Homo sapiens: one gene and its partner. The protein of the gene in region 1 interacts with the protein of each later gene in a pairwise test. Each region holds a gene or a part of one and is shown in the gene's direction. Other genes may lie near its edges. The genes, in order: MIER2 and DBF4B.

The links.
Region 2: the proteins of MIER2 (region 1) and DBF4B interact in a two-hybrid assay, tested with the Homo sapiens proteins (one large-scale study listed by IntAct).

The regions. Positions count from the first base shown.
Region 1 is NC_000019.10:320,714-324,526, reverse strand, and holds part of MIER2 (mesoderm induction early response protein 2), read left to right. Parts: intron 1-3,813. UniProt on the Homo sapiens protein: Transcriptional repressor.
Region 2 is NC_000017.11:44,732,352-44,736,164, forward strand, and holds part of DBF4B (protein DBF4 homolog B), read left to right. Parts: intron 1-1,738; coding exon 1,739-1,812; exon of another isoform or gene 1,813-1,830; intron 1,831-3,813. UniProt on the Homo sapiens protein: Regulatory subunit for CDC7 which activates its kinase activity thereby playing a central role in DNA replication and cell proliferation. Required for progression of S and M phases.

The DNA.
Region 1 (3,813 bases):
TGATGACGTCTGTGTCCTTCGAGTCATCTGCGTGGTTGTGTGTGTCTTGTGTATTGCATTGTGATGACGTCTGTGTCATTCGAGTCGTCTGCGTGGTTGTGTGTGTCTTTATTGCATTGTGATGACGCCTGTGTCATTCGAGTCGTCTGTGTGGTTGTGTGTGTCCTGTGTATTGCATTGTGATGACGTCTGTGTCATTCGAGTTGTCTGCGTGGTTGTGTGTGTCTTGTGTATTGCATTGTGATGACACCTGTGTCATTCGAGTTGTCTGCGTGGTTGTGTGTGTCTTGTGTATTGCATTGTGATGACGTCTGTGTCATTCGAGTCGTCTGCGTGGTTGTGTGTGTCCTGTGTATTGCATTGTGATGACGCCTGTGTCATTCGAGTCGTCTGTGTGGTTGTGTCTTTATTGCATTGTGATGACGCCTATGTCCTTTGAGTCGTCTGCGTGGTTGTGTGTGTCTTGTGTATTGCATTGTGATGACGCCTGTGTCCTTCGAGTCGTCTGCGTGGTTGTGTGTGTCCTGTGTGTTGCATGGTGATGACGTCTGTGTCATTCGAGTCGTCTGTGTGGTTGTGTGTGTCTTTATTGCATTGTGATGACGCCTATGTCCTTCGAGTCGTCTGTGTGGTTGTGTGTGTCTTGTGTATTGCATTGTGATGACGCCTGTGTCATTCGAGTTGTCTGTGTGGTTTTGTGTGTCTTGTGTATTGCATTGTGATGACGTCTGTGTCATTCGAGTTGTCTGTGGTTGTGTGTGTCCTGTGTATTGCATTGTGATGACGTCTGTGTCGTTTGAGTTGTCTGTGTGGTTGCGTGTGTCTTGTGTATTGCATTGTGGTCCTTGGTTTGGATGCTGTGGTTTTTGAGTCTTGTGTGTTCCATTGTGGTCCTTGGTTTGGATGCCATGGTTGTGTGTGTCTTGTGTATTGCATGGTGATGATGTCTGTCATTTGAGTCATCTGCATGGTTGTGTGTGTATTGCATTGTGATGACGTCTGTGTCATTTGAGTCGTCTGTGTGGTTGTATCCTGTGTATTGCATTGTGATGATGCCTGTGTCATTCGAGTCGTCTGCATGGTTGTGTGTGTGTGTCCTGTGTATTGCATTGTGATGATGTCTGTTCTTTGAGTCATCTGTGTGGTTGTGTGTGTCTTTACTGCATTGTGATGATGTCTGTGTCATTCGAGTCGTCTGCGTGGTTGTATGTGTCTTGTGTATTGCGTTGTGGTCCTTGGTTTGGATGCCGTGGTTGTGTGTGTCTTGTGTATTGCATTATGATGACGACTGTATCATTCGAGTTGTCTGCGTGGTTGTGTGTGTCTTGTATATTGCATTGTGATGACGTCTGTGTCATTTGAGTCATCTGTGTGGTTGTGTCCTGTGTATTGCATTGTGATGACGCCTGTGTCATTCGAGTCGTCTGCGTGGTTGTGTGTGTCGTGTGTATTGCATTGTGATGACGTCTGTCATTTGAGTTGTCTGTGTGGTTGTGTGTGTCTTGTGTATTGCGTTGTGGTCCTTGGTTTGGATGCCATGGTTTTTGAGTCTCTTGTGTGTTCCATTGTGGTCCTTGGTTTGGATGCCGTGGTTGTGTGTGTCTTGTGTGTTGCATCGTGGTCCTTGGTTTGGATGCCACATTTACCCACCCTTTCTGCCATGGGCTGCGGTCATGGTTGGTTCAGCTGTGGGCTGTGAATGCCCTCGTGTGCGTCGTTAGTGGACATAGGCACTCGGCACTTGATGGACAGCGGGGAGTCGTGTGGGAGGTGTGTGCTTAGGGTGACGCATACTGCTTGAGTTTCTCACTAATGATTTGTGGGAGTTGCTCCACATTCTCGGTGTTTGCCACTGAGGGTGAATTTGCCTGAATTTTAGCCCGTCTGGTGGATATGGACTCCTGTCCCATTGTGGTTTTAATTGGCATTTCCCTGGTGAGCACCTTTCGCAGGTGTACTGGCCATTTGGATATTCTCTCTTTGCGTGCTCCAAGCTTTCTCCCATTTTGTTGTCTTTCCCTTTCTGATTTGTAGTCATTCACATTTTGTGGAAACAAGTCTTTCTGGGCTTTGTGCACTGCTGCTGTTTTCTCCAGTTTGTGGTTTGCCCATTGACTCTCTTAGTGATGTCTTTAATTTTAATAAAGTCCAACTTATCAATCATTATTTGAATAATAATGTGTGTGTGTGTTCTACTTAAGGAGTGTTTGCTTACCTCAGGCTCTTGGAGATATTCTTCCACGTTTCTTTCTAGAAGATTTATTGTTTTTCCTTTCACATTTAAGGCTGTGATCCAACTTAGTTTACATTTTGGTGTATGGTGGCTGGGCGTGGTGGCTCACACCTGTAATCCCAGCACTTTGGGAGGCCGAGGTGGGAGGATAACTTGAGGTCGGGAGATTGAGACCATCCTGGCTAACACGGTGAAACCCCGTCTCTACTAAAAATACAAAAATGAGCCAGGTGTGGTGGCGGGCACCTGTAGTCCCAGCTACTTGGGAGGCTGAGGCAGGAGAATGGCGTGAACCCGGGAGGCGGAGCTTGCAGTGAGCCGAGATCGCGCCACTGCACTCCAGCCTGGGTGACAGAGCGAGACTCTGTCTCAAAAATAAAAAATAAAAATAAAAATAAAAATAAAAACAACAAAAGTCCATTGTCTCCCCCACTGAGCTGCAGTGACGCCTTTGTGGTAAATCAGGTGCCTGTAAGGTGTGTCTTGTCTCACCCGGAGTCATCGCCACTGTCTCAGTTATTACAGGTTACAAGGAAGTCTGAGGTGGTGCAAGTCTTCTAACTTTGTAAGTTTTCATTGCATATCTATGTAAGTTTTAAGATTAAAACTTATTTTTTTCAGCAACTGACAAGTTTTAATCTTTTTTTTTTGAGATGGAGTCTTGCTCTGTTGCCCAGGCTGGAGTGCAGTGGCATAATCTCAGCTCACCACAACCTCCGCCTCCTGGATTCAAGCAGTTCTCCCACTCAGCCTCCCAAGTAACTGGGAGTACAGGCACCCGCCACCACGCCTGGCTCATTTTTGTATTTTTAGCGGAGATGGGGTTTCACCATGTTGGCCAAGCTGATCTCGAACTCCCAACCTCAGGTGATCCGCCTGCCTTGGCCTCCCAAAGTGCCGGGATTACAGGTGTGAGCCCCTGCGCCCGGCCCATAAATTGATTTTCAAACGTTAAGTTAACGGTGCACGGTGGAATAAACGTGCTTCCTGGCCATGAAGTGTTCTCTCTTGTGTGTATGTATCTCATGCACTCAGTCCTCATTATTTGTGGGTTCTGTGCTGGTGAATTGCCTACTTGGTAAAATTTATTTGAAACCGCAAATCAAAACTCGCAACACCTTTACGGTCAGGCGCCAGCAGATGTGTGTAGAGTGTCAGTGAAGGCGAGTTACCTGACGTACAGTTCCAGCTGAGGTGGGACAAGCTGCTGCTCTGTCTTGGCTCTCAGATCTTTTACTGTGAGCACGTGCCTTTCCTGCCGTGTACTGAATGCCGTTTTTCACATCCTTGTGCCTTGTGTCGGCTACTTGACGGATTAAAGTGGCCCCTAAATGTAGTGCCGACGTTCTGTCTGGTGTTCTTAGGTGGAAGAAGGCTATGATGTCCCTTTCAGAGAAAATTCGAGAAGCTCCACTCAGGCGCAAGCTCTGGGGCTGCTGGCCGTGAGTTCAGTGTTAGTGAATCCACAAGGCAGATCCAGTGAGACAGTGGCTCCCAACCTTTTTTGGCACCAGGGACTGGTTTCGTGGAAGACAATTTTTCCACGGATGTTGGAGTAGGGGGCGTGGTTTCAGGAGGAA
Region 2 (3,813 bases), on another chromosome or scaffold:
GAGCTTCTGGTCACCGGAAGCCAGAAATACTCAGCTGCCATGTTGATCCACAAAGGTGGGAGGATGTGGGGAAGGGGGAAAGCGGTGAGGACGCAGAGTGCAGGCTGTGGCCTCGGCATCCCGCAGGAGGTCCCTAGAACATGCCGTTTCATGTCACCTGCTACAGCTCTCCCCCAGCTAGTATGATGATCCTGTTTTACAAATGCAGAAATGATCTTAATATTCATGACCACTGGCCAGGCGAGGTGGCTCACACCTGTAATCCCAGCACTTTGGGAGGCCAAGGCGGGTGGATCACAAGGTCAAGAGTTCGAGACCAGCCTGACCAACGTGGTGAAACCCCGTCTCTACTAAAAATAGAAGCATTAGCCGAGCCTGGTGGTGCGTGCCTGTAATCCCAGCTACTCAGGAGGCTGAGGCAGGAGAATCACTTGAACCCAGGAGGCAGAGGTTGCAGTCAGCCAAGATCATGCTACTGCACTCCAGCCTGGGTGACAGAGCGAGACTCCGTCTCAAAAAAAAAAAAAAATTCGGCCAGGTGCGGTGGCTCACGCTTGTAATCCCAGCACTTTGGGAGGCCGAGGCAGGCAGATCACGAGGTCAGGATATCGAGACCATCCTGGCTAACACGGTGAAACCCCTTTTCTACTAAAAATACAAAAAATCAGCCGGGCGTGGTGGCGGGCGCCTGTAGTCCCAGCTACTCGGGAGGCTGAGGCAGGAGAATGGCGTGAACCTGGGAGGCGGAGCTTGCAGTGAGCCGAGATTGCGCCACTGCACTCCAGCCTGGGCGACAGAGCGAGACTCCGTCTCAAAAAAAAAAAAAAAAATTCATGGCCACCTAACAGGTATTGACTCTGTGCTACGAATTACCTCATTTAATCCTCACTACAGTCCTGTCCCCATTATACAGATGAGGAAATTGAGCCTCAAAGGGATTAGGCAAATTGTCCATGGTCTCACCAGAGTGTGTAGTGTGGCCCACCACTCTCAGTTTTACTCAGCTGTAAATTTTGTGCTCCTTCTTTTTTCACACTGTAAACAACCTGTTTGCAGCCTGTTTACACTAGAATAGTTGTCTTGAACCAGGTGGCAGTGAGTGGTTTCATACCCAGCTCCATTCTTGAGTCTGGAGTTTTCTGTGATCCATTTTAGAGGATTGGTCCAGATGGGACAGCCCATAGGTGCTGACTGGGGCGCTGCCCCACCCCTTGGTACCAAGATCTTCCAGGGGAGTCTAGAGGCTGTACAGGGGAAGTTCCTGGTCTGGGATGTGGAGGGCTTCATCTCACTGAAAAATCAGCCATTTCTGACTTGATTTCCTTCCCTGCCTTTCTCTGTTAGAGGAGTGCTAGCATGTTTAGCCCTTGCTGGTCTTTCACCTGAGGGTACAGCTGAGTAGTTCACACAGCATGGCCTCCCTCACAGCCACAGCTCTTCAGTGGTGCCTTAAAGTCCTTAGCAAGCCATGAGGCACCTTCTGTTCAAAGATGAGTTGTATTCAATGCTGCAAAAGAGCATGACACCCGCTCAGGTGCTGTTCCAGGGATAGAGGACCCAGTCCTTAACCTCCGCTGTCAGGAGATGCAGAGGGGATGTGTAGCCAGAAGGTGGCAGGCAAGGCTGGAGTGATTCAGTGGGCTGGCCCAGCGAGTTTAGTCCTGCAGCCCAGGAAGGGGCTGTGCTAGGTAAGTGAAGACTGGAAGCCTTTGGCACAAACCCTCTGTCTTCTCCACAGAAATGATGATGCACGTGCAACAGCTGTCTCTTGCGTCTTTATGTGTGAAAAAACAACAGCCAAAGAAGCCAGAGGTAGGTCATCCTGCTGAACTGAAGGACAAATGGATGGTTTTCAATGAAATCAGTGACAACTTAGGTAAATCCATGGCCCACCCAAACCATCTCTTCCTGGCCATTCTGAAAGATGGAAGAGGAATGCAGCCTCTTATTTACCTCAGTCCTAGTGCCCATAGCTTTGCAACACCCTTTCTTCTCTCTTCTCTGTGGCACTTGCAGTCCTCCCATGGCACACACCCTGCTGAGACATCCCTATGGCCTGGACTGCCTGGGCCATGGGCTCCCTACAGTAGTTCTGGACCAGATAAAGTTCATAAATGCCCATGGCACTGACCAGGCTGCTATTCTGGAACTTTCCCTGTACAGCCTCTAGACTGGGAACGAGTCTGCATACTGCAGGGGTGAGAAGGAGTGATTGAAATAGCTGCCATCTTCTAAATCCTTGTTTGTTTTCCATTCTTTGCTGGCGTTAGAACTGTGTGTACTACATCAAGAGAGCCCAACCTGGTTTAAAGCCACAGTATCTTCACCCAAGCCTCAATCTGAGGAAGGATTAAATCTACAGATCTACCCACAGCCTGGCATCCAGGCACAGGACGAACAGTAATAGCTATTAGTTAACAGTGCTAATTAGCTAACAGAACTAGCAAGCCACATCCAAAGTGGATGGAGCAGCTGGGCATGGTGGCTCACACCTGTAATTCCAGCACTTTGGGAGGCCAAGGCCAGCAGATCACTTGAGGTCAGGAGTTCAAGACCAGCCTGGCCAGTGTGGTGAAACCCCGACTGTGCTAAAAATACAAAAATTAGCCGGGCGTGGTGGCACATGCCTGTAATCCCAGCTACTCAGGAGGCTGAGGCAGGAGAATCTTGAACCCAGGAGACATGTTGCAATGAGTCATGATCGCACCACTGCACTCCAGCCTAGGCGACAGCAAAATTCTGTCTCAAAAAAACATAAAAAAATAGTGGATGGAGCATTCAGACACTGACGCCCTCTCCACACCCTCTCCTCTAGGAGTGTTGGGGACATTGCTGCTGTTAAATTTGTGTTATTCAAAATTCAAAAGGGTATACAACAAAAATTCTCGCCCTGCTCCAGCTTCTCCTCAACCACTGACCTTCCTCCCTGAAAGTGTGAACAGTTTCTAGGACTCTATGCACATAGAAGCAAATATGTCAAAAATTCCCCCCTTCTATGCAGATACACAGCATTTTTACTTTAACTTAATCAGTTTTGTAGGCCGGGCACAGTGGCTCACGCCTGTAATCCCAGTAATTTGGGAGACCGAGGCAGGTGAATCGCTTGAGGTCGGGAGTTTGAGACCAGTTGGCCAACATGGTGAAACCCTGTCTCTACTAAAATACAAAATTAGCCATGTGTGGTGGCGCATGCCTGTAATCCCAGCTACTTGGGAGGGTGAGGCAGGAGAATCGCTTGAACCCTGGAGACAAGTTGCAGTGAGCTGAGATCACACCACTGCACTCCAGCCTGGGCAACAGAGTGAGACTCTGTCTCAAAAAAAAGAAAAAAAAATTAGTTTTGTAGATATCTAGCAGTGAAGTGAGTTTTGGGTGTAATGTGCTGATACGCAAGGGAATGTGAGAGGCTTCTTTGGATTGTGTTTGCCCCCAAGGTGTGGCCTAGAGGAGAATCTGGAACTTCTTAAGGCCCAGAGGCACAGGTGGTCATGGATCCACCATCATCCTGGCCCTCCAGCTAAAGCTGATTTTTTTATTTTATTCCATTTATCTTACATTTATTTACTTATTTTTCAGGTATATACCAGAAGATCCATTTACTCTTTTTTCTTTTTATTTTATTTGTTTATTTTACTTTACTTTTTTTGTGAGACAAGGTCTGGCTCTGTCGCCCAGGCTGGAGTGCAGTGGCGCCATCTCTGTTCACTGCAACCTCCACCTCCTGGGCTCAAACCATCCTCCCACCTCAGCCTCCCAAGTAGCTAGGACTACGGGCATGCGCCACCATGCCTGGCTAATTTTTTTTTTTTTTTT